Linked DNA regions of Homo sapiens. The protein of the gene in region 1 interacts with the protein of each later gene in a pairwise test. Each region holds a gene or a part of one and is shown in the gene's direction. Other genes may lie near its edges. The genes, in order: HIP1, CLTA, SF3B3, GLS2, GABPB1, LHX5 and SPART.

Region 1 (3,500 bases):
AAAACCCCATCTCTACTAAAGATACAAAAACGATGGGCCAGATGCAATGGTTCACGCCTGTAATCGCCGTAACACTTTGGGAGGACGAGGTGGGCAGATCACCTGAGGTCAGGAGTTCGAGACCAGCCTGGCCAACATGGCGAAACCCCGTCTCTACTAAAAATACAAAAATTAGCCGGGCATGGTGGCGCACCCGTAATCCCAGCTACTTGGGAGGCCGAGGCAGGAGAATCGCTTGAACTCAGGAGGCGGAGTTTGCAGTGAGCCGAGATGGCGCCACTGCACTCCAGCCTGGGCAACAAGAGCGAGACTCCATCTCAAAAAAAAAGTGTCTATTGCCTTGTATCTCCAGCACTGACCGAGGCCTGTAAGCAGTATGGCAGGGAAACCCTCGCCTACCTGGCCTCCCTGGAGGAAGAGGGAAGCCTTGAGAATGCCGACAGCACAGCCATGAGGAACTGCCTGAGCAAGATCAAGGCCATCGGCGAGGTACTTGGAGTAGTATCATTGAGGAGCATTGTTATTCTTCTGGGTGTGCGTGCTGGTGAATGGCCAGGGAATCGGTGATGTTCTGAGCTAGTTCTTTCTGCACTTAGAACTTGATTCTAGAAAGAGATTGTTAAAATTGGAAAATCTGGCCGGGTGCAGTGATTTATGCGTGTAATCCCAGCACTTTGGGAGGCCGAGTCAGGAGGATCACTTGAGGCTAGACGGGATGGCTCACGCCTGTAATCCCAGCACTTTGGGAGGCTGAGGTGGGCAGATCACTTGAGGTCAAGAGCTAGAGACCAGCCTGGCCAACAGGGTGAAACCCTGTCTCTACTAAAAATACAAAAATCAACCCAGCATAGTGGTGCATGCCTATAATCCCAGGTACTGGGAGGTGGAGTCAAGAGAATTGCTTGAACCCAGGAGGTGGAGGTTGCAGTGCACCGAGATCATGCCATTGCACTCCAGCCTGGGCATAAGAGTGAGATCTATCTCGAAAAAAAAAAGGATCACTTGATCCCAGAAGTTTGAGACAGGCCTAGGCAACAAAATGAGACCCTGTCTCTTTAAAAATTAAAAAAAAAAAAATTTAAAAAGGAAAAACCTCCTGAAGGACTTTCCAGCTATATTTAATTCACTGGCTGTTAGCTGAGAATCTACTATGTTGTCATCATTACACTAGGCAATATCAAAGAAGTATAGGCAGCTCCCCTGTCTCTGAGGATTTTTATCTAGGTGGGCAGGTAATACCCAAAATGGAAATAACACTGTGTTCATTCATTTACTAAAGATGTAGTGCCGAGCATGGTGGCTCACACCTGTAATCCCTGCACTTTGGGAGGCCGAGGCAGGAGGATCACTTGAGGCCAGGAGTTCAATATCAGCCTAGGCAACATAGTGAGACCCTGTCTCTACAAAATAAAATTTTTTTTTTAATTAGACAGGTGTGATGTCACGCACCTGTAGTCCCAGCTACTCGGGAGGCTGAGGCAGGAGGATCGCTTGAGCCCAGGATTTGGAGGCCACAGTGAGCTATGATTGTGCCACTGCACTCCAGCCTAGGCAACAGAGTGAGACCCTGCCTCTGCTATAAATAAATATGTCCTGTATACCAGAAATTGGGTTAAGTATATATAGGGACAGAGAAGACATGGACTCTATGGAAAAGAAAAATAAGAAAACCATTTCTATGCAGTACAGTTTTTTTTCATTTTTTCCCCAGTGTTATGAATTGGAATATATTGGTTAAGATACAAGGATAGGGCCAGGCACGGTGGCTCACGCCTGTAATCCCAACATTTTGGGAGGCCGAGGCAGGTGGATCACCTGAGGTCAGGAGTTCTAGACCAGCCTGGCCAACATGGCAAAACCCCATCTCTACTAAAAGTACAAAAAATTAGCCAGGCGTGATGGTAGGCGCCTGTAATCCCAGCTACTTAGGAGGCTGAGGCAGGAGAATCACTTGAACCTGGGAGGCTGAGGTTGCAGTGAGCTAAGATCGTGCCTTTGCACTCCAACCTGGGCAACAGGAGCGAAACTCCACTCAAAAAATAAATAAAAAATAAAAGCCATGAGGATAGACTGTCTAATTGGAGTTCCAGAAGAAGATAATAAAAAGACCACATCCAGCCAAGGTGGGTGGATCAATTGAGGCCAGGAATTTGAGACCAGCCTGGGCAACTTAGTGGCGCCCTGTCTCTACAACAAATTTAAAAATTGGCCGGGTGTGATGGTGAGCACTTTTGGTCCCAGCTACTCAGGAGGCTGAGGCAGGAGGATCACCTAAGCCTGGGAGCTCAAGACTGCAGTGAACCGTGTACTCTGCAGTGAATTGCAGAGTGTACTCTGCAGAGTGGTTCACCTGCAGTGAACCACTGTACTCCAGCCTGGGTGAGAGAGTAAGACCCTGTCTCTAAAAAGAAAAAATAAAAAGATCAGGGCCAGGTGTGGTGGCTCACGCCTGTAATCCCAGCACTTTGGGAGGCTGAGGTGGGTGGATCACTTGAGGCCAGGAGTTTGAGACCAGCCTGGCCAATATAGTGAAACTCCATCTCTATTAAAAATACAAAATTAGCCAGTTGTGGTGGCTAATTTTGTAATCCCAGCACATACCTGTAATCCCAGCTACTTGAGAGGCTGAGGCAGGATAATCCTTTGAGCCTGGGAGGCGGAGGCTGCAGTGAGCCGAGATTGCACCACTGCACTCCAGCCTGGGCGACAGAGTGAGACACTGCCTCAAAAAAAAAAAAAAAAAAAAAAAAAATTATCATCTACATCTTTGCCTCCCTAAATAATAGAGTTAGTTTCACATGATATAGACTACAGGTAAATGGAGTCCTACTGTATATATTCTTCTACAACTGGCTTTTTCACTCCACATTCTGTGAGATTAATCCAAGAAGATAAATTCATTTTCACTGCTCTCTCATTATCTATTGTGTGAATATCGCTTAATTCATCCGTCTGTTCTCTTGGTGATGGACACTTGGGTTATTTCCAGTTTGGGTTGTTATTAATTTGCCCCTATGATCATATATGCACACATGTCAGTTTCTCTAGAGTATATACATAGAATCAGAATTACTAGGTATTAGGATGAATCTCACACATAGAATGTTGAGTGAAAAATCAAGTCATGGAAAAATATATACAGTAGGATTCCTTTTATATAAAGACTCAAACATTCAAACTTAATAGGGATGCATCTATGTGGAATTAAAAAATAATAATAATAAGACAGGCCAGGCATAGTGGCACATGTCTGAAAATCCCAGCACTTTGGGAGGCCGAAGCGGGAGGATCACTTGAGGCCAGGAGTTTGATACAGCCTGGGCTACAAAGCAAGACTCTGACTCTACAAAAAAGTTTAAAAGTTAGCAGAGCCTAGTGGTGTGTGCCCGTTGTCCCAGCTACTCAGGAGGCTGAGGCAGGGAGGATCACTTGAGCCCAGGAGTGGGAGGCTGCAGTGAGCTATGATCGCACCACTGCACTCTAGCCTGGGCAACAGGCTT
Region 2 (3,500 bases), on another chromosome or scaffold:
GAGGCAGCACAAGTGGAGCTGTTGAAAAGCTCTCAATCATGAGGGCTGAGTCGGGGAAGAGAACAGGAGAGACAAGCCACAGAGAGAGTACAGCAGTAAGGCACTATTATGGTGTTTTGTTGTTTTTGAGACAGTCGCTCTGTCACCCAGGCTGGAGTGCAGTGGTGCGATCTCGGTTCACTGCAACCTCCGCCTCCTGGGTTCAAGCAGTTATCCTGCCTCAGCCTCCCGAGTAGCTGGGATTACAGGCGCCCACCACCGTGCCCAGCTAACTTTTTGTATTTTTAGTAGAGACGGGGTTTCACCATGTTGGCCAGACTGGTCTGAAACTCCTGACCTCAGGTGAGCCACCCGCCTTGGCCTCCCAAAGTGCTGGAATTACAGGTGTGAACCACCGCACCCGGTGACAAGTTATTTCTTGTAGGAGAAGAAAGAGACATGGGTGAATTAAAGGGAAGCTTTCTGGAGAAGTAATTTTATTGGTAGCAGTGGTGGAGGGAAGTTTAGGGAAATCTCATGCATGATAGTTAATTGTACTGCACATTTGCTGTATACCAGGTACACTTTCAGATCCCAGCAGTAGCTCCACAGGTTAAGTGGTAGTGTCATATTTCAGATGAGAATGGATCGGTGTGGAAGTTGAGCAGTGTCACTAAGGTAGCAAGGTAATAAATGGCTCAAGTGCAGCTTCAAACGTAGGTCTGCTTGACTTCAAATGTTTCTGGAATGTGGAAAGTTGAAAGTGGGTTTGGGACAGTCTTTCACTTTTGAAAACTGGCCCTTTTTCTGTCTGGAGTTCCTGAAAGGCCCTAGAAAGTTTCCTTCTGAAGCATCGTGTTGCTTAGTTTAGTTGTTGTAGTAAGTCAAGGCCCTACATGTCCTTTCTGCATGTTTCCACAGCAACAGACGATCCCTTGGCTTGAGCCAGTTGATTCTTGTAAGAATGTTAGTGCAGTAATACAGTAACTAATAAAGAGGAAAGCAGATGCCAGTGGGTCTGGAGGAGCCTTCAGACAGCATGTGATTTTTAAGGAGATGTGGGATGAGGATTGCTTCTTGTTTTGTATATGGAGTAGTGATCAAAGTCTCTCATATTCCAGCCCAGGGCTGGACTATATTAGTGGATAGTTGGTATGTCAATTGTACTATATTAACCATAATGTAGGCCTGGCCAGACTAGCCACTGTAGGATCTAGGATTTAAAACTATCTCACTCTTCTGTCTTACACAAAAATAAATTCCAGGTGGATTAAAGAGAGACATTTAAAAAGTAAAAGAAGAAAAGTGAGTATTTGTCTATCTCATAATAGGAAAGGCCTTCAGCATAAAAGCAGATACAGAAATCATGAAGAAAAAGTCGATCATGTCTACATACACAAATTAAGTTGTTCCAAGTGTTAAATACCATAAACCAAATCAAAAGAGAAACTAGGGAAAATATTTGACTATTAGAGAGCAAATACTTAGAGATCAAAAAATAGCAGGAAAATAGGCAAACTCAGAAAATTCAGTAAAGAAGAAAATCAGGTGTCGGGTATGTGATTACCTCACTGGAAATAAGATTGGCACAACAAAGCCACCATGAGTTTGTTTTTTTTTTCCATTATCAAATTAGCAAAAATTTTAAAACATGATCAAGCACAGTCCCTAGTATCAGGGAAGGTCTAAGAAATGGGGCACTTGTGCTGCTAGTAGTAATATAAACTGGTAGACTAATAGGAACAAGTGGGTAGAATTTTAGAAGTCTTTGAAATACATATCCTGGGCCAGGTGCGGTGGCTCACGCCTGAAATCCCAGCACTTTCGGAGGCTGAAGTGGGCGGATCACCTGAGGTCAGGAGTTTGAGACCAGCCTGACCAACATAGTGAAACCTCGTCTCTACTAAAAAATACAAAAATTAGCCGGGCATGGTGGCACGTGCCTGTAATCCCAGCTATTCGGGAGGCTGAGGCAGGAGAATCACTTGAACCTGGGAGGCGGAGGTTGCAGCAAGCCGAGATCGCGCCAGTGTACTCTAGCCTGGCCAACAGCGTGAGACTCCGTCTCAAAAAAAATAAAAAAATACATATCCTGGCTGGGCGCAGTGGCTCATGCCTGTAATCCCAGCACTTTGGGAGGCTGAGGTGGGTGGATCGTCTGAGGTCAGGAGTTCGAGACCATCCTGGCCAACGTGGTGAAACCCCCGTCTCTACTAAAACTACAAAAAAAATTAGGTGGGCATGATAGCTCACGCCTGTAGTCCCAGCTACTCAGGAGGCTGAGGCAAGAGAATCACTTGAACAACCCAGGAGGTGGAGGTTGCAGTGAGCCAAGATTGCACCACTGTACTCTAGCCTGGGCAACAGAGCAAGACTCTCTCTCAAAAAAAAATAAAATACATATCCTGTGATCCAGCAATTCCTTTTTTTTCTTTCTTTTTTCTTTTTTTTTTTTTTTATTTTTTGAGATGGAGTCTCGCTCCGTCACCCAGGCTGGAGTGCAGTGGCGCGATCTTGGCTCACTGCAACCTCTGCCTCCCGAGTTCAAGCAATTCTCCTCTTTCAGCCTCCTGAGTAGCTGGGATTACAGGCTCATGCCACCACCCTGGCTAATTTTTGTATTTTTAGTATATGGAGGTGGGTTTCACCATGTTGGCCAGGCAGGTCTTGAACTCCTGACCTCGAGTGATCCTCCCACCTTGGCCTCTCAAAGTGCTGGGATTATAGGTGTGAGCCACCGCGCCCAGCTGTAACCCAGCAATTCTACACCAAGAAATTTATTACAGAGGCGAAATTGAATATGCTTCCCCCATGCTTTCACTAGTTTGATAAACTTCATATTTCCAAAACTTTATAGAGTGCTTAAAAAACTACATAGGTAGGTGGCACATGCCTTAAAGTGGTAAAAGGCCACTGACAAACTATAAGAAACTCATTTTTGTACTGACATATAGGAGTAAAAGTCAACTAGGAAAATTAAGAAAAATATGAGAGGCCAGGCATGGTGGCTCATGCCTGTAATCCAATACTTTGGGAGACCGAGGCGGGTGGATCGCTTGAGTCCAGGAAATCGATAGCAGCCTGGGCAGCATGGCGAAACCCCCTTCCTACAAAAAAATAGAAAAATTATCCAGGCGTGGTGGCGCATGCCTGCAATCCCAGCTCCTGTGGGGACTGAGGTGGGAGGTTCGCTTGAGCCCAAAAGGTCGAGGCTACAGTAAGCCATGATTGGGCCACTTTGCTCCAGCCTGGGCGACAGAGCAAGACTGTCTCAAAGATGAAGCTGCAGGTCTCTGCTCACTATGGGTGATTCCAGGCCACACTTTTTTTTTTCCCTCATGCAGAATTTTCATAGAGAAACACTGTTCTCTTTCTGCTAGTCTTCCATTTGTTACCACTGTAAAATAGAAAACAGAAAATAAAATCAAAAGCTTTTGGACTTGGGAGCTTAAGGACAGATGTGTACACATTTTGGTGAAATTTGTATATAAGCACATCTTGGTTTTATTTGTTGTATATAG
Region 3 (3,500 bases), on another chromosome or scaffold:
GTGTTGCTCAGACTGGTCTTGAACTCCTGGCCTCAAGTGGTCCTCCTACATTGGCCTCCAAAAGTGCTGGTGGGAATGCAGGCATGAACCACCGTGCCTGGCCAGTTTTAATGTTTTATTAACTCTGTATATCTGAAATCATTCTAACATGTAGTTAATATAAAAATTGCTGAGCTATTTCACCTTTTTTTCTCTCTTTTTTAAACCAAGTCTGAAATCTGGTATTGGCACTTTACACTTAGCAGTCTTAGTTCTCTTTAAAATTTTATTTGTCTTTATTTAAAAAAAATTTCTTCCTTGACACAGAGTCTTGCTCTGTTGCCCAGGCTGGAGTGCAGTGGTGTGATCTCAGCTCACTGCAGCCTCTGCCTCCTGGGTTCAAGCGATTCTCATGCCTCAGCCTCCTGAGTAGCTGGGTTTATGGTGTGCACCACTACGCCCGGCTAATTTTTCTTGTTTCTAGTAGAGATGGGGTTTTGCCATGTTGCTCAGGCTGGTCTTGAACTCCTGAGCTCAAGCGATCCACCCGCCTTGGCCTCCCAAAGGGCTGGGATTACAGGTGTGAGACACCATGCCTGGTCCTGTCTCAGTTCTGACTAGCCACATGTGGCTTGGGGTAGCTATAGTATCGGATATTGCAGAAGAAGAAGTTGGTTAGATTCAGATTTAATTATTGGGGGAGGGGGACAGGAATACTTAATAGGTGGTGCTGTTTACTCCTGTTGCATCACGTCAGGAGGAGTGTAGTGTCTGGTTGTCCCACTCACAGTGATGTTGGGATGTTTGTCTGTATCTGTGTTAAAGTTCCCGTCAACCCTTTACTTACAGCTATTACACACATTGCCTAGGTTCATTCTTTCATTAGTGGTTGGAAAATGATTTATTTCTTTTTGGATTTAATTAGTTGGAATTCTAAAGACAAAATTCGCATCATTTCTTTGCTTACTATAAGTACGGTTCATACAGGAAAAGGATAAATAATTTTTTTCCCATTGTTCACCTGTTTTCAGAGTAAGGAGTGAGGGCCACAGCACTCCTTTCAGTGGGGCCCAGTAAAGTGGGTTTTTTGCTGTTTTTTAGAGTAACATTGGTCAGGTGCTGTGGCTCACACCTGTAATCCCAGCGCTTTGCGAGGCTGAGGTGGGTGGATTGCTTGAGCTCAGGAGTTCGAGACTAGCCTGGGCAACATGGCGAAACCTCATTTCCACCAAAAATACAAAAAATAGTTGGGAATGGTGGCTCATGCCTGTAGTCCCAGCTACTTGGGAAGCTGAAGTGGGAGGATTGCTTGAGCCTGGGAGGTGGAGGCTGCAGTGAGCCAAGATTGTGGCACTGTACTCCAGCCTGGGTGACAGAGTGAGAACCTGTCTCAATAAATAAATAAATAAAAATTTAAAAAAATAGAGTAACATCATAAACTTGTGGATTTTTATACATTTGTGCTGAAAACTCCTTTTTTTTTTTTTAAACAGAGACAGAGTCTCGCTATGTTGGCCAGGTTGGTCTTTAGCTCTTGGCCTCAAGCAGTCGTCCTTCCTTGGCTTCCACAGTGCTGTGATTACAGATGTGAGCCACCTCACCTGGCTTCTTTTTTTTTGAGGGGTGCGGGGGGGTGGTAAATTGACTCATTCTAGAAAAGTGGGAATTTCTATTTGAAGTTAGTTCTTTTGTCCTTTTAACATGACCCCACTATTTGTAGGGGTTTCCTTGCCTTGTTGCACAATAAAGTATCCCCACATGTGTCTGGAACATTCTTGCCCCTGCCCCAAACTAGTCATTCCTTTTAGGAACCTTGTTCCTTTAAGAGGAAATGCTGTTTAGGGACCATGGTCTTTGTGGTTATTTAATTATTTATTTGAAATATACAGTAGTGAAGAAGGATTTAATATACTTGGTAAAAAGAAATATTAAGAAGATATAGTGAAAAATAAGTGTGTATTTACTTAGTAGATGCTCCATAACTTTGGATGATTAAGTGATTTACTGAGAGAATGAAATGAATGGCTATCGGATTATTAGGATCTTTTTTAAACACCCAAGTCATTTCTTTCTATCTGCTCTAATTTCTTATGTGAAGTACCCAAGGGAGAGGTTTTCCCATCATAGCTGATAAGCTTCCATCAGGCTTCACCTGCTCCTCTCCTTTTGATTAGAACGGTGTGCTGCTGAGGACTGTCTTGGACCCTGTCACTGGGGATTTGTCTGATACTCGCACTCGGTACCTGGGGTCCCGTCCTGTGAAGCTCTTCCGAGTCCGAATGCAAGGCCAGGAGGCAGTAAGTAATGAAGGTTGGGGACAGGCAACATCTTTGGGATTTTAGTGGCACCATCTGAGAACAATCTTTGCTGTAAGCTTCACTGTCACTAATTTGCCACTCCATCTTGATTGGTTTCCTTCATGTGAGAAGTCCTGAGTTTTCCTAACCTAGAGCTTCCTCACTGGGGCTCCATCGCACCATGTCATGATTTGGTTATAGCTGGGTAGAGATATCGATCCCTTTAGCCCTCTGGCTGGTCAAATAGGGCTGGAAACCTCCCCTCTAGGACACCACTAGCCATGAGAATTCTCAGGTTTTATCCCAGTCTTAGATCAGTGTCACGTTTACTACCTAATGTGAAAGAGACTGGGAAACATTGTGTCCTTTGTAGTTAAGAATGTTAGTGTTTCTGGGCACTGTGCTAATTGATTCCATTTAATTCTGTTTTTTGTTGTTTTTTTTTTTGAGATGGAGTCTCACTCTGTCGCCCAGGCTGGAATGTAGTGGTGCAAGCTTGGCTCACTGCAACCTCCGCCTCCTGGGTTCAACCAATTGTCTTTCCTCAGCCTCCCGATTAGCTGGGATTACAGGCGCATGCCACCACGCCCAGCTAATTTTTGTATTTTTAGTAGAGATGAGGTTTCACTATGTTGGCCAGGTTGGCCTCGAACTCCTGACTTCAGGTGATCCGCCTGCCGTGGCCTCCCAAAGTGCTGGGATTACAGGCATGAGCCACCGCACCTGGCCTTCATTCCATTTAATTCTTGCAGCTGTCCAGCCTTGTGGTACTGTTTTCATTTTACACACGTGGAAGCAGGCTTAGAGAGATGAAATGGTGAGTCTAGATCATATGGCTCGTAGCCCATGCTTTTCACATATGCTAAGCCATAGTGCCTCTCTCTAGCCCTCTTTTTCTTAAGATAGCCTGTTATATTTCTAGAATATCTTAGGATACTCTGCAGACTGAAATTTGGGGATAGGGCTTTTGGTCAGCTTATACCATATTTGTATTTTTTCCCAAACCTTATTGGAGCTGGGTTTTTTTTTTCCCCTCAGGTATTGGCCATGTCAAGCCGCTCATGGTTGAGCTATTCTTACCAATCTCGCTTCCATCTCACCCCACTGTCTTACGAGACACTGGAATTTGCATCGGGTTTTGCCTCGGAACAGTGTCCCGAGGGCATTGTGGCCATCTCCACCAACACCCTACGGTGAGTGAGTCTCATGTTTGAAGCTCAGCAG
Region 4 (3,500 bases), on another chromosome or scaffold:
GCCTCAGCCTCCCAAAGTGCTGGGATTACAGGTGTGAGTCACCATGCCCAGCCTACTTCTTATTTCAAGTGCTTATTCTGTAGGCACTGGGGAGCTACCAAACGTTTTTGAGTAGAGAAATTACATTTGAGTTTAGAAAGATCACTGGCACATTTTGACTGGGCGTGGTGGCTCATACCTGTAATCCCAGCACTTTGGGAGACTGAGGCAGGCGGATCACGAGGTAAGGCGTTCGAGACCAGCCTGACCGAAATGGTGAAACCCCGTCTCTACTAAAAATACAAAAAAATTAGCCAGGCGTGGTGGTGCACACCTGTAATCCCAGCTACTCAGGAGGCTGAGGCAGGAGAATCGCTTGAACCCAGGAGGCGGAGGTTGCAGTGAGCCGAGATCGCGCCATTGCGCTCCAGCCTGGGCGACAGAACCAGACTCCGTCTCAAAAAAAAAAAAAAAAAAAAAAAAGATCACTGGCACATTTTAGAAGGTGGATTGAGGCAACAAGAGCAAAACTCTGTCTCAAAAAAAAAAAAGATGGATTGAAAGTCAAGAGAGTGTAGTGGCAATTAGGTAATAGGGAATAAGGAGCTGATGATAAACATGATTTATTGAACATTTACTTTGTGTCAGGCAGTTTTTCACAGAATATTATCTTAAGCCTCACATCACCCAGGTGAAGTAGACATTACTACCCTTGTATTACAGATAGGAAGCAAGTTCAGCAATATTAAGCGACCTGCTCAAGATCACACAGCTATTAAGGGGCAAACTCTGGTCTACTACACCATGCTGGCACAGGGAAAAGGAGGAGAGGGTGGATTTGAGACATTATGAGGCAGATTCATCCAATGTTGGTGACCAACTAAGCATGGACTTAAGGTGTGGCAACTATCAAAATGATGCCACATTTCCAGCTTGGCACCCAGGTGGGTGGTAATGCTGTTAACCCAGGTGGGAAACAAGAGGAGAAGAAGAGGGAAGGAAGTGAGATGACTCAGGTTTGGACATATTTTTCAGTGCTTGTGGGGAACCTATAGGTGGAAGTGTGAGAAGGGAGCTAAAAATAAAGATCTGAAGGTCAGGAGTAAAAGCTAGAGAAAAGATCTACAACTTCTTAGGACAGACATGAAAGTTAGATTTATAGGGATAGATCAGATGGCTTAAGGAGGAGGCATAGAATGAGGACACTCACCTACTTATAAGCCCATGTTGCAGAAGGAGGAGCAGGTAGCAGTTCTCAGGCCCCACTTTCCTCCCCATTCTCTGCCCCCAAACAGTGATTCATCAGAAAGTGGCATGCTGTCCCGCCTGGGTGATTTGCTCTTTTACACTATTGCTGAAGGACAGGAACGAATCCCTATCCACAAGTTCACCACTGTAAGTTGCCCTCTACCTGTTCAGGATCCTAATTCCTTAAGATCTCTGAAAAGTGGGGAAAGGAGGGTATGACAAGTGCAGGGCAGCTAATGGGTTGCTACATGAGGGTGAAGCATACAGATGGATGAGAATCCAGATGTCTAGGCTGACAAGACAAGCCCATCCCTGCCCCAGGGTCAGAAGATTAAACCCTCTGGAAAAAGGACAGGAAACCCTTGTTAGCCTTCAGAGCTACTCCATCCCCTCCTTTCTTATTCTCCAAACCCATTTGTTCCACCTATTGTAGTGGTTGGGGTTCAGCTAATTGGGTATCCAGTGGGAAAGATTATGAGGAGTACATCACTGTCCTTGTAGCTGACCTTTCTGGCCTCTTCTTTCCTCTAAAGGCACTAAAGGCCACTGGACTGCAGACATCAGATCCTCGGCTCCGAGACTGCATGAGCGAGATGCACCGCGTGGTCCAAGAGTCCAGTAGTGGTGGCCTCTTGGACCGAGATCTCTTCCGAAAGTGAGGGCCCCAGAAACAAGGGCACTGCTCTCTGAAAACTGTCCTGTGGACATAGACTCTCAGAGCAGGGAGGAATTTGGGAATTGTATAGTTCAATTCCTCATTTTATTTTATTACTTATTACATAAGTTATACATGAATACTCATCATAAGAGTTCAAACAATATAGAAATACATGTTCTCCTTTCCCTCCCTACTCAATCCCTGTCCTCTTTTCCCAGAAGTAAATATTAGCAGATTAGTGGGTATCTTCTAGATAATGTCCTATGTACTGACATACATACATGAATATATATAAATATACTTTTATGATTTAGGATTTTTTAAATATCAAGGTAACATACATACATATTATTCTGGTATTTATTTTTTTTCTCATATCCCAAGACATAGTGTCTTTCCACATCATTAAAACCCCTCATTTTAGAGGTACGGAAACTAAGACCTAGAAAGGTAAACTGATTTGCCAAAGGTAACAGAGCTGTTGATCCCAAACCTGAAGACCACTCAACCTTCTTTATTCCCAATTTCCGTGGCTCCAGAGTGAGTCCCAGCTGCATTTCTCTAGCCCCCTAATCCAATCGTGTCTGGGATCCAGGTGTGTGAGCAGCAACATTGTGCTCCTGACCCAGGCATTCCGAAAGAAGTTTGTCATTCCTGATTTTGAGGAGTTCACGGGCCATGTGGATCGCATCTTTGAGGATGTCAAAGAGCTCACTGGAGGCAAAGTGAGAGTCAGGGGACTAAGGGAGGGGTCAGGGACCTGGGCCAGATTTTTTTTTTTTTTTTTTTTCCTGAGACAGAGTTTTGCTCTGTCACCCGGGCTGGAGTGCAATGGTGCAATCTCAGCTCACTGCAACCTCCACCTCCCAGGTTCAAGCGATTCTCCTGTCTCAGCCTCCCGAGTAGCTGGCATACACCACCATGCCCGACTAATTTTTGTATTTTTAGTAGAGATGGGGTTTTGCCATATTGGCCAGGCTGGTCTCGAACTCCTGATCTCAAGTGATCCACCCACCTCGGCCTCCCAAAGTGCTGGGATTACAGGCATGAGCCACCACACCTAGATATACCTCGCTTCTCAGAGATTTCCTGGGGCTGGGAGTCCTATGAATGAGAGATGAGAAGCAGAACTTCTGTAAATGGTGACATGGCTTCATGTGTTTCTATACACGATTCCTAGAGCAGGTGAGGGAATCAAGATCGAATAGAGCCTTCAAAGGGATTTATAGGGTAACTGAGCCTAAGAACCAAAAGGGGAAGGTTGCCTCAGAATTCTCCTTTTTTAACTTCCATTGGCTTTACTGCTATCTCTACAGGATTGCGGATACACAAAGATATGGCCTTCTAGGACTTAAGGCTCGGGCATTTCTGGGAGCAACAGGCAGGAGGGAACCCCTCTGCCCTATAGAAGACAGAATTTTAGCTTTTATCTAAAAGATTCTCTTGACCCTCAACCTCAACTCTGTTCCTCTTCTCCACATCCATCTCCCTTTTCTCTACCCACTCATGTCCAGGTGGCAGCCTACATCCCTCAGCTGGCCAAGTCAAACCCAGACCTGTGGGGTGTCTCCCTGTGCACTGTGGATGGTCAACGGTGAGATGCTGGGCAAGAGGA
Region 5 (3,500 bases), on another chromosome or scaffold:
GTAGAAACGTGGTTTCACCATGTTGGTCAGGATGGTCTTGATCTCTTGACCTTGTGATCTGCCTGCCTCGGCCTCCCAAAGTGCAGCAATTACAGGTGTGAGCCACTGTGCCCAGCCAAAAAGTTTCAAAGTTTAAAAAAAAAAAAATGGCCGGGCTCAGTGTCTCATGCCTGTAATCCCAGCACTTTGGGAGGCCGAGGCGGGCGGATCACTTGAGGTCAAGAATTCGAGACCAGCCTGGCCAACATGGTGAAACGCCGTCCCTACTAAAAATACAAAAATTAGCCAGACGTGGTGTGTGCTTGTGTCTCGGCTACTCGGGAGGCCGAGGTGGGAGTATTCCTTTAGTCTGGGAGGCGGAGGTTGTAGTGAGCGGAGATTGTGCCACTGTACTGCAGCCTGGGTGACAGAGCAAGATTCTGTCTCCAAAAAAAATTTAAAAAACTACTCCTGTTGGTCCTGACTGTGATTCTATTTTAAAGAATATCTTAAACCCACTAATGCTGTGATTATATTACATAATGTAGAATCTTTTTCTGAAAGAGGCTTGAGCATTCCTATAACCCAATTAGCTTGTTTATGTCTCATTACACTTGAGGGATAAGATACTTTTACTATGGTGGTTTACTATAGTAGTGATTCTTTTTTTTTTTTTCCAGATGGAGTTTCACTCTGTCACCCAGGCTGGAGTGCAGTGGTGTGATCTAGGCTCACTGTAACCTCTGCCTCCCGGGTTCAAGTGATTCTCCCAAGTAGCTGCAGTTACAGGTGCCCGCCACCATGCCCAGCTAATTTTTGTATTTTTAGTAGAGACGGGGTTTAGCCATGTTGGCTAGGCTGGTCTCCAACTTCTGACTTCAAGTGATCTGCCCACCTTGGCCTCCCAAAGTGCTGAGATTACAGGTATAAGCCACTGCGCCCAGCCTATAGTAGTGATTCTTTAAAGGAGGTGGGTAGATGACACTGTGATACCTGTCTTTAATGCACCCATTCTGTGCATGTAGAGACTGAGGTGGTTGTAAAATTACAGTACTGAACTTTGGAATTAGGTCAATTCTTCTCATTATGATAACGGTTTTGGATGTATAGCCCCTTCTGACTCCTGGAATCCTTTATTTCCACAGCACTTCCCATGTATCCAAACAGAGGAAAAAATAATTAGTAGTATAGTGCTTGCTTCAGCAGCACATATACTAAAATTGGAACGATGCAGAGAAGATTTTCATGGTCCCTGCACAAGGATGACACATAAATTTATGATGTGTTCCATATTTATTATTATTTTTAATAATAAAAAATAAAAAAAATTTGTATGGTGTGTAAGTGAATGATCTAAAAAATTTCCTTTGTGCCCTAAATGACTTGTGTGAACTCTGTGATCTTTGCCAATGTGATTATTCTTCCTGTGTTCCTTTACTTGTTCCATTCATAGTGACCCTCAGTTTCTTGCCCTAAGTGCTATGGTCTAAAAGCTTGTGTCTCCCCATAATTCATGTTGAAATCTTAACCTCCAAGATGATGGCATTAGGAGATGGGGCCTTTGGGAGGTGATTAGCTCAGGTGGGTAGAGCCCTCAGGAGTGGGATTAGTGCTCTTAAAAAAGAGACTCCAGACCGGGTGCAGTGGGTCATGCTTGTAATCCCAGCACTTTGGGAGGCTGAGGTGGGTGGATCAGGAGGTCAGGAGTACAAGACCAGTTTGGCCAAGATGGTGAAACCCCATCTCTACTAAAAATACAAAAATTAGCCGGGCACAGTGGCAGGTGCCTGTAATCCCAGCTACTCAGGAGGTGGAGGCAGGAGAATCGCTTGAACCTGGGGGGGGCGGAGGTTGCAGTGAGCCGAGATGGCGCCACTGCACTCCAGCCTGGGCGACAGAGTGAGACTCTGTCTCAAAAAAAAAAAAAAAGACTCCAGACAGCTTGTTAGCTCTTTCTTCCACATGAGGTTACAGCAAAAAGACAGATGTCTAGAAGCTGGCCCTTACCAGATACTGAATCTGCCAGTGCCTTATTTTGGACTTCTCAGCCTCCTGGGCTGGGTGAGGTGGTTCACTACCAGCCTTGGCACCATAGTGAGACTCCCATCTCTACAAAAAAAAAAAAAAAAAAACTTTCTGTTGTTTGTAAGCTACCCAGTTTATGGTATTTTGTTACAGCAACCCAAACAGTCTGAGACGTTTAGCTTAACTCCTGTATGCACTAGATACAGTCTGCACTTTGACATCAATCACTTATTTTATATTTTACTGGACTCCTGTTGTCAGATTTTTCCACCATCGATTTCTTCTGTTTTCCCTCACAGGTCACAGCATATTTGTGGAGGAAGGTGAGTAATTATGAAGATTTCTTGGCCACTATAAATTTACGCTGAACAATTCCAAATAGGCCCCTCCTACTTCTTGGCAATCATCTTATTAATTGCATTTTTCTGTTGTCTCATATTCCTTCTTCCTCTTTAACTCTTAATAGATGCCATTTACTTCTATATAAGTGAAAAAGGAAAACAGGGTACAAGCTTGCACATTTTTTTTTCATTGTAACCATGACAAATCACTGTTCTTTCATCTTATTTTGTAAATTGAACGGAAGAAGAATCCTGCTGCCACAGTTAACTTTACCTCTCTGGTCACTTTGATTGTTATTTGCAATGTTTTTTCTTCCCTACCTTAAAATATGTACAGACTTCTCACCGGGCGTGGTGGCTCATGCCTGTAAACCCAGCACTTTGGGAGGCCAGGGCGGGTGGATCACGAGGTCAGGAGATCGAGACGATCCTGGCTAACACAGTGAAACCCCGTCTCTACTAAAAATAAAAAAAATTAGCTGGGCGTGGTGGCGAGCGCCTGTAGTTCCAGCTACTCGGGAGGCTGAGGCAGGAGAATGGCGTGTACCCGGGAGGCGGAGCTTGCAGTGAGCCGAGATCGCACCACTGCACTCCAGACTAGGCGACAGAGCGAGACTCCATCTAAAAAAAAAACAAAAAAAAATGTACAGACATCTGTACTTTGGGAGGAAAAAAAATCAATTTTGATGAACTGCTGCTACTGTTCTTTCTAGCTATCTGCTGCATTTCTCTTCATTTCAAAAATTTTAAGAATTGAATTACAATTGCTGCCGTGAGTTTTTACTTTTTTTTCGAAGACAGGGTCTCACTGTGTTGCCCAGGCTGGAGTACAATTGCAGCTCACTGCAGCCTTGACCTCCCCAGGCTCAGGTGATCCTCCTACCTCAGTTTCCCGAGTAGCTGGGACTACACGCATGTGTCACCATGCCTGGCTAATTTTTGTATTTTCCTGGTAGAGACAAGGTCTCACTGTGTTGGCCAGGCTAGTCAACTCCTGAGTTCTTTTACTACTACTTTCCTAACTTACGCAGTTTTGGAATAGCATAATTCAGATTGTCGCTTCAGAGGACATCTTTTTTGTCAATAATATTGGCTTCATCCTGACTCTTTTCAGCTAGTATATATGTGTTACTATTTCCACTGAGGCTTTTTAAT
Region 6 (3,500 bases), on another chromosome or scaffold:
GTTGCCCTCCTCCCCTAATTTGGAAGCGCACAATTCCCCCTTATGTGTCACTTGAGCTCCAGGTAATTTCTTGATGCACTGGAAGGACATTAATTGAGGTCTGGAGAGAGGAGGGAAGAGAGAGGAAGATCCAAGCCCCAAGGGAATCTGTGCCCTCCTTGTCCCCTCTCCTTGAAAGTGGGAGTTCTCCAGAGGGTACGCGTCCCCCTACCCTTACCCAGGTACTAGCTGAGACGCGCGGAGAGGGCTTAAGAGCGCCCCTCCAAAGGCCCAGCCCCGCCTGGAGAGAGTGGGCGGGCACCGGGTCCCTGGGGGAGGGGCTGTCGCAGGTTTGGGAGGGAATCCAGCGGGGCTGGCCGTAGCCTGGGCAGGCCGTAGCTTGGGCCGGCGGGAACCCGCCACTGGACTGAAGAGGCGTCTGGCCGTCGCTGACGCCGCTGTCCCCTTCCCGATCCGTCCGCCCGCAGTGTCATCCTGTACGGACCGCAGTTTGTCCCCGGACCTCCAGGACGCACTGCAGGACGACCCCAAAGAGACGGACAACTCGACCTCGTCGGACAAGGAGACGGCCAACAACGAGAACGAGGAGCAGAACTCGGGCACCAAGCGGCGCGGCCCCCGCACCACCATCAAGGCCAAGCAGCTGGAGACGCTCAAGGCTGCCTTCGCCGCCACGCCCAAGCCCACGCGCCACATCCGCGAGCAGCTGGCGCAGGAGACCGGCCTCAACATGCGCGTCATCCAGGTGCGGCCCGGGGCGGGCACAGCTCCTTAGCCCCGCTGGCCTGGGAGCCGGGAGCCTCGGAGGAGTCTCCCGCCAAGCTTCCTTGGCTACGAGCGCGCCTGGTTCTGGTCTGGGAGCAGACCGTGCGCCCGAGTGGGGCACTTGCCCGAGGTCGGGGACTGTGAACCGAAAGATTCCATCTAGCCCTGCTGTCCTCCTGGTATTGCGATTTGGGGGCGGGTCACTTTACCTCTCTGAATTCCGCCCCCCGCCTTGCTTATGGAAGGTTGTAAGCCTCTCTGGGGTCCGGGATCCCTCTTTACCTCCACCTTTCGAGCAGAGAAACAGGCGATGCCCCCTCCCTCCCTGCGCCGAAGCGCGGGCAGACAAACGGCCAGAGGCTGGCTCCGGAGCCGAGGGGCCGAGGCGAGAGCCGTGCCGGGAGGGAGGCCTTTATAGAGCCGTCAGGCCGCGGGCGAGCCGGGGACCAGGAAGCCCAAGTCTTTATGAGTCGCCCCACGGGTCCGCGAAATCCTTCACCCTTGGCTGGTTCGCCGAAGCCTCTCTCCACCCCTCCCGGCCTAATCCGGCCCGGCCCCGCCTCGGGGGAGTCCTGGTGCGGAAGAGGCGCAAGGACCCAGCAGGGGCAGCCCAGTCAGGGAAGGGAGAAGAGGGGGGGAGAGGACACTCCTGATCCTGGGTTCACAGCCCCCTCCTCTGTCCCAGGTGTGGTTTCAGAACCGACGGTCCAAAGAACGCCGGATGAAACAGCTGAGCGCCCTAGGCGCCCGGAGGCACGCCTTCTTCCGGAGTCCGCGGCGCATGCGTCCGCTGGGCGGCCGCTTGGACGAGTCTGAGATGTTGGGGTCCACCCCGTACACCTACTACGGAGGTAAGGGGCGCCCCGGGATTCGCTGTTCCGCACCTGTCCTATTCCGGGAGCTGAGGGCGAAGGGTCCCGGCCAGCACGCTTTCCGCCGCTCCAGAACATCGCCCACTCGCTGGACACACGATCACAGACACATGTACACTCACCCACATGTCCTGGACACAAAATCAGATACATGGTCTCACCCATACAGTGATGCACACAGAAGCACACACGAGATACAGTGACACATTCACCCACGCAGGGCACAAGGTGCACTCACACTTGCGTTCAGAGACTCCAGGGACACACGTCTAGACACGATCGCACGATCACGTATAGGTAAATTCCACCCTCTCACACACAGGTACACTCACGGAGACACAACTCCACAGACGCGCACACTCCCACCAGTCACACTGAGGCCAGTACTGGCAAATCCACATGCATGCGGCCCCCACGGACAGACGCACAGCCTTCCTGCCGCCCTGTGCCTGGTGTACTTGGCATGAGGTGGATTCCGAGCGCTGGAGGGTAGTGTGAGGGGAGGGGATGGGGGTCTGGATTCATTCCAAGCCGCCTGCTCACTAGCATCGAAGGCAGCAACTCCTGTTCCATGTGGCGGGGTGTGTGCGCACAGCATCTGGCAGTGTTAGCCCAAATGCCGGCAGTTGCTCTGGGCAGGACTGTAGTCCACCCTCCAGCCCCGAGACCCCTGGGGTTCCTACAGACTGGGGGCACAAGTGTTGGGCCAACCCCAGATTTCCACCGTCTTTGGGGCTGCAGAGAGCGAGGAGCCCCAGTTTACAAAGGGCTTCAGATGGTGGTACCAGGCTTGGGCCTGGGGTGAGCTGTCCCCTTGCCACCTCAGCTTTTCCTCCTCTCACTTCCCTCACACTGGATTGGTGAGCCATCCCAACTCCCCCTATCCGATTTTTTCAGCTCCTTACCCTGAGCCGCATTGCTTGAGCTCACCAAGCTCACTGTCCTGTTCTTCCCAGGGCTGAGGGCTCAAGAAAGCACCTCTCCTCTTCTATTCTGAAGCTTCTGAATTTGGAGAGACCCCAGGACTGTCTATGTCTGAGAGGCATCTGCACTTCTGAGTTGTAACGCAGGTTAGGAAGAGGCAATTTCTCTTAGAAAGTGGGTTCAGTGGCAGTGTTAGCAAGGCAGGAGCTAGGCACCCAGGTAGACGCAGAAGGGAAGGGAAGATAACCCCATCACTAACCTCAGCACATCCGGAAGCCTGAGGGGGGATTAGACCTTGAGACCGGACCGGGGCCCCTAGAAATTGTGGGCAAAATGCCAGGCTGTGCTTTTCAGGGCAGAGACCCCAGGCAGTGGCAGGGCTCAGGCTGGAGCGCCCCAGCCGCCCAACCCTGGACAGCCCCCCAACCCTGGACAGACCCCCAACCCCGGACAGACCCCCAACCCTGGAGAGCCCGGATGGTGGGCGTGTCTTCCGGAGTCTCCACTCACCGACTCTCTCCACCTAAATTTGCCTCTTTCCCTACAAAATCTGGGCCCGGAGCAGCGAGGTAGTGGGGGCGGTACCGGCCCGGAATTTTTCCCCGCCTGGATAATTAACCAAGGTTTCCCCGAGGACCACTTCGCCCCCGCCCCGACCTATCCCACCGCCTCCTCTCCCTGCGCGCTGGATGAGGTGGGGAGCTGGATACTGGGGGCCCCTCGTTCCCCGTAATGGTGGGGAAGACTCCCCAGCCCCCAGCGAGGCAGCCCCGCCTAATCCGCGCTGGGAGATCCCGGCGGTGGCGACCGGCAGCGGGCGAGAAAGGGGCCGGGCGGCGGGGCCGGCGGCTCCCCGTGGGAGCGCGGACAAAGCCCCAGCTGCGGCTTTTGTGCCCTTTTCAGACGGCGTTTGTTCCAATTACCTCCGGCCCGGCCGCC
Region 7 (3,500 bases), on another chromosome or scaffold:
CTTAATAATAACTGAAATTAAGGGAAATATGTATTTTTCTCATACATATTAAAATAAATAACTACTCAAATGTTAAAAGTTTGTGGGTAAGACTGTTTTGATGTTGAGCACAGTTATATTTTGGTTTCTCAAAGAATGTATTGCATTAGAAATAAATTAGGCAGCCAGGATGTGAGCTTATGTCTGTGTATGTACTGGCAAGCCGACCTCCGCAGATGACATTGCAGGAGAGCTTTTGTTATTTTGCTTTTAATTTCACAATAGATAGATAATCCATAAACATTAACTTAATCTATTCTGTTATGTCAGGTTCTCTTGGGTTTAGTACAAAAAATTATTCCATGTTGTGAGTGAGTGCTGAATTTCTTATTTATTCATTTATTTTTTCTTTGAGACAGAGTCTTGCTGTGTTGCCCAGGCTGGAGTGCAGTGGCACAATCTTGGCTCACTGCAACTTCCACCTCCCAGGTTCAGGTGATTCCCCTGCCTCAGCCTCCCAAGGAGCTGGAGCTAGGATTACAGGCATGCACTACCACCCCCAGCTAATTTTTGTAGTTTTAGTAGAGATGGGGGTTTCACCATGTTGTCCAGGCAGGTCTTGAACTCCTGACCTCAAATAATCCCCCCACCTCTCCTTGGCCTCCCAGAGTGTTGGGATTATAGGTGTGAGCCACTGTGCCCGGCCTGTGAGTGCTGGGTTTCTAATTAAAATACTTGTTCAGCTTCTCTGGTCCAGACTATATGTGTTAAAATCCAAGCTCCACTTTTTAGTTGTTGGTTCTGGGCGACTTAATTGACCTCTCTGTGCCTCAATTTTCTTGTACATAAAATGACAATAATAGTAACTGATTTCATAGGATTGTTAGGAGGATTAAATCAGTAAATACTATTATTTCAGTAAATATTTCAAGTAAATAATATCTGAAAATAGTTTATTTACCACAAAAGGAATATCTGATTTCAATAACGAAAACCTTAATTTACTTTGATTATTATTTATTTAAAGCTGGAGTCATTATTGGTTAACACTAGGCTAGTTAAGGCCATCAGCTTTAAGATTGTATAATTAGTGGAGCCATGGCACATTTAGCACAGTCCTTATTGCAGAAAGATCAGACTAGCAAATGATTAATTTTCTTGGGGATTTGTTGATGTTGATGTTTCTTAAAGCCTTTTAAAATATGTTTCCAACTTTGAAGTGTTTATTTTCTAGTATAACAATTTTATTAAAACATAAATGAAAATCTAGTTTCATTTATTTATATGTATATTTTTTTTCTTCTAATGAATCCTTTCAGGTTTGTGACTGGTTATATCCTCTAGTTCCTGATAGATCTCCGGTTCTGAAATGTACTGCGGGAGCCTACATGTTTCCTGATACAATGCTACAAGCAGCAGGATGCTTTGTGGGGGTCGTCCTGTCCTCTGAGTTACCAGAGGATGATAGAGAGCTCTTTGAGGATCTGTTAAGGCAAATGTCTGACCTTCGGCTCCAGGTAACTTGTGTGATCATCTTTAGGGTGAAAAAAATCTACTTTAACATAAGCACTTCAGCTTTTAGAGAAATTGTAATAACCTCTACTGTAATCAAGGTTAGGAGACTGACAGTTCACCATTTGTTTGTGTGTTCACAACTACATGCTTGGAATTTGCTGTAATAGTGGTTAAGATTGTGAGCTCTAGAGTCAAATTGCCTGTATATGAATTCAAACTCTTCCACTTAATGACCGTTTAGCTCAGCTGTTCCTGATCTTCTCTATACTTTAATTTACTTATAAAATGGGGATAATAACAGTGTCCACTTCATTGGGCTGTGGTGAAAATTAAAAATTAATACATTAAGCACTTATATCAGAACGAGTAGTTATGCTCTGTGAATGTTAGCTATTGTTTTCACCACTGTTTTATTGCTCAGCTGGAAAAGTGTACTAATGGGTCTAAATGGTGACATGAAGATAATTTTAGCTTTAGTAGATAGGTTATGTTGGACATTTTAAGGGGTATGGTTGGCATTCTGAGGAAGAAACAGGCTTTGGTTGAGATAATTATCTTTGTTCTTGTGGTAAATGAAGGCCAAATAAAAAAATAAAAAGAAAATATGATTTAAAATATGATCATCCTGGAACTTTCCTTATTTGGCATGTTTCCTCTGCCCACATGCGTACCTGTAGAAATAGAGTATTTCTGTTTAACAGGGAACTTGAATAGAGTATTATGGAGAGACTTTCTTTATATATTGTTGTAGCAAGAGGGAAAAAGTATTTTTGATTATGAATATTGACAGTCATCAGGGGTTGAATGAGGTGGGCATTATAATAGTATAATCTTTTATTCTCTCCTTCAATCAGCAGATACTTGGAATTCATTATTTAACCAGTTACTGTGTTAAGTGATGGGATGGGCAAAGTATGAGAACAGGAGACCACGAAGGTGTGGGGGATGTGTGTGTGTGTGTGTGTGTGTGTATGAAAATATAAAATCAGCCCCTGTTCACCCGAGAATGACCTACCTGGTGGTCAACAAACCAATACTTTAGCATAGCAGCAATTATTTAACAAAATACATGATCAGCATACAGAAGTGTGTAGCCTCATTGTACTTGTGAGGAGGAATTCACAAAGGCAGGAATATGGTCAAATGAAGGAGTTCATCTTCACTTCACTGTTTACTGAGTGAAATGATGCTCTTAAGTATTCACAGACCTAATGTGGAACTATTTCTCCCTTCACCCCTACGTTAACTGGACCTGTATTACTGGGCTTTAGGAAAGAAACTAAGCAGACTTTTAGGTTGTATGTTTATTTTCTGTCTTCAATTTAATTTTTTGGTATTTGTATGTTATTTTTAGCTTGCTTTACTGTCCCAGAACTTCAACTGTAAACATAAGCTAGTTACTAGCTATAATTTTGACTGGTTTTTACTCTTAAGCATTCATTCAGCAAAGTGTATATTGTGCAGAAAATTAAAAAATAAACCTTCCAATAATGCATAATGAAATGGACATGAGTTTTGTTAATTGCCTTTAAATTCACTTTCTCTTGTACATGTTAACTAAAATTTATTCATTAATTAAATTTAAATGTAGCTGCATCTGATTCAAAGATAACTTATACCAACAACTGCTATAAGTTGTCTTTTACACGTTGTCTTTTGAAACTTACTTAGGCATATGCTATGAACCAAAGAACTCAGAGGTTTGGGGTTTGGTGATGAAACAAAAGAGAATCGTAGAGAAAAAAGCAAAAGTAGTTGTTACTGATAGACTGCCAAACTGACATTCAAACAAGTATGTCATTTGAGCATGGTGTAATATAGCTGGCAGAAAGCCATCTAAGAAAAATTCTGATTAGAGTTAAGCTTAAACCTTTATTCTCTAGGCCAACTGGAACAGAGCAGAAGAAGAAAATGAATTCCAAATCCCTGGAAGAACTAGACCCTCCTCTGACCAACTAAAAGAAGCCTCTGGCACTGATGTGAAACAGTTGGACCAAGGCAATAAG

The links.
Region 2: the proteins of HIP1 (region 1) and CLTA interact in binary tests that used the Homo sapiens proteins (3 or more experiments, as listed by UniProt).
Region 3: the proteins of HIP1 (region 1) and SF3B3 interact in binary tests that used the Homo sapiens proteins (3 or more experiments, as listed by UniProt).
Region 4: the proteins of HIP1 (region 1) and GLS2 interact in binary tests that used the Homo sapiens proteins (3 or more experiments, as listed by UniProt).
Region 5: the proteins of HIP1 (region 1) and GABPB1 interact in binary tests that used the Homo sapiens proteins (3 or more experiments, as listed by UniProt).
Region 6: the proteins of HIP1 (region 1) and LHX5 interact in binary tests that used the Homo sapiens proteins (3 or more experiments, as listed by UniProt).
Region 7: the proteins of HIP1 (region 1) and SPART interact in binary tests that used the Homo sapiens proteins (3 or more experiments, as listed by UniProt).

Annotation. Positions count from the first base shown.
Region 1 is NC_000007.14:75,550,442-75,553,941, reverse strand, and holds part of HIP1 (huntingtin-interacting protein 1), read left to right. Parts: intron 1-352; coding exon 353-489; intron 490-3,500. UniProt on the Homo sapiens protein: Plays a role in clathrin-mediated endocytosis and trafficking. Involved in regulating AMPA receptor trafficking in the central nervous system in an NMDA-dependent manner. Regulates presynaptic nerve terminal activity.
Region 2 is NC_000009.12:36,193,921-36,197,420, forward strand, and holds part of CLTA (clathrin light chain A), read left to right. Parts: intron 1-3,500. UniProt on the Homo sapiens protein: Clathrin is the major protein of the polyhedral coat of coated pits and vesicles.
Region 3 is NC_000016.10:70,558,316-70,561,815, forward strand, and holds part of SF3B3 (splicing factor 3B subunit 3), read left to right. Parts: intron 1-2,153; coding exon 2,154-2,276; intron 2,277-3,314; coding exon 3,315-3,469; intron 3,470-3,500. UniProt on the Homo sapiens protein: Component of the 17S U2 SnRNP complex of the spliceosome, a large ribonucleoprotein complex that removes introns from transcribed pre-mRNAs.
Region 4 is NC_000012.12:56,478,162-56,481,661, reverse strand, and holds part of GLS2 (glutaminase liver isoform, mitochondrial isoform 1 precursor), read left to right. Parts: intron 1-1,274; coding exon 1,275-1,374; intron 1,375-1,760; coding exon 1,761-1,882; intron 1,883-1,953; exon of another isoform or gene 1,954-2,480; coding exon 2,481-2,610; exon of another isoform or gene 2,611-3,399; coding exon 3,400-3,479; exon of another isoform or gene 3,480-3,500.
Region 5 is NC_000015.10:50,345,199-50,348,698, reverse strand, and holds part of GABPB1 (GA-binding protein subunit beta-1 isoform beta 2), read left to right. Parts: intron 1-2,303; exon of another isoform or gene 2,304-2,327; intron 2,328-3,500.
Region 6 is NC_000012.12:113,465,372-113,468,871, reverse strand, and holds part of LHX5 (LIM/homeobox protein Lhx5), read left to right. Parts: intron 1-467; coding exon 468-745; intron 746-1,450; coding exon 1,451-1,616; intron 1,617-3,500. UniProt on the Homo sapiens protein: Plays an essential role in the regulation of neuronal differentiation and migration during development of the central nervous system.
Region 7 is NC_000013.11:36,329,395-36,332,894, reverse strand, and holds part of SPART (spartin), read left to right. Parts: intron 1-1,298; coding exon 1,299-1,496; intron 1,497-3,377; coding exon 3,378-3,500. UniProt on the Homo sapiens protein: Lipophagy receptor that plays an important role in lipid droplet (LD) turnover in motor neurons.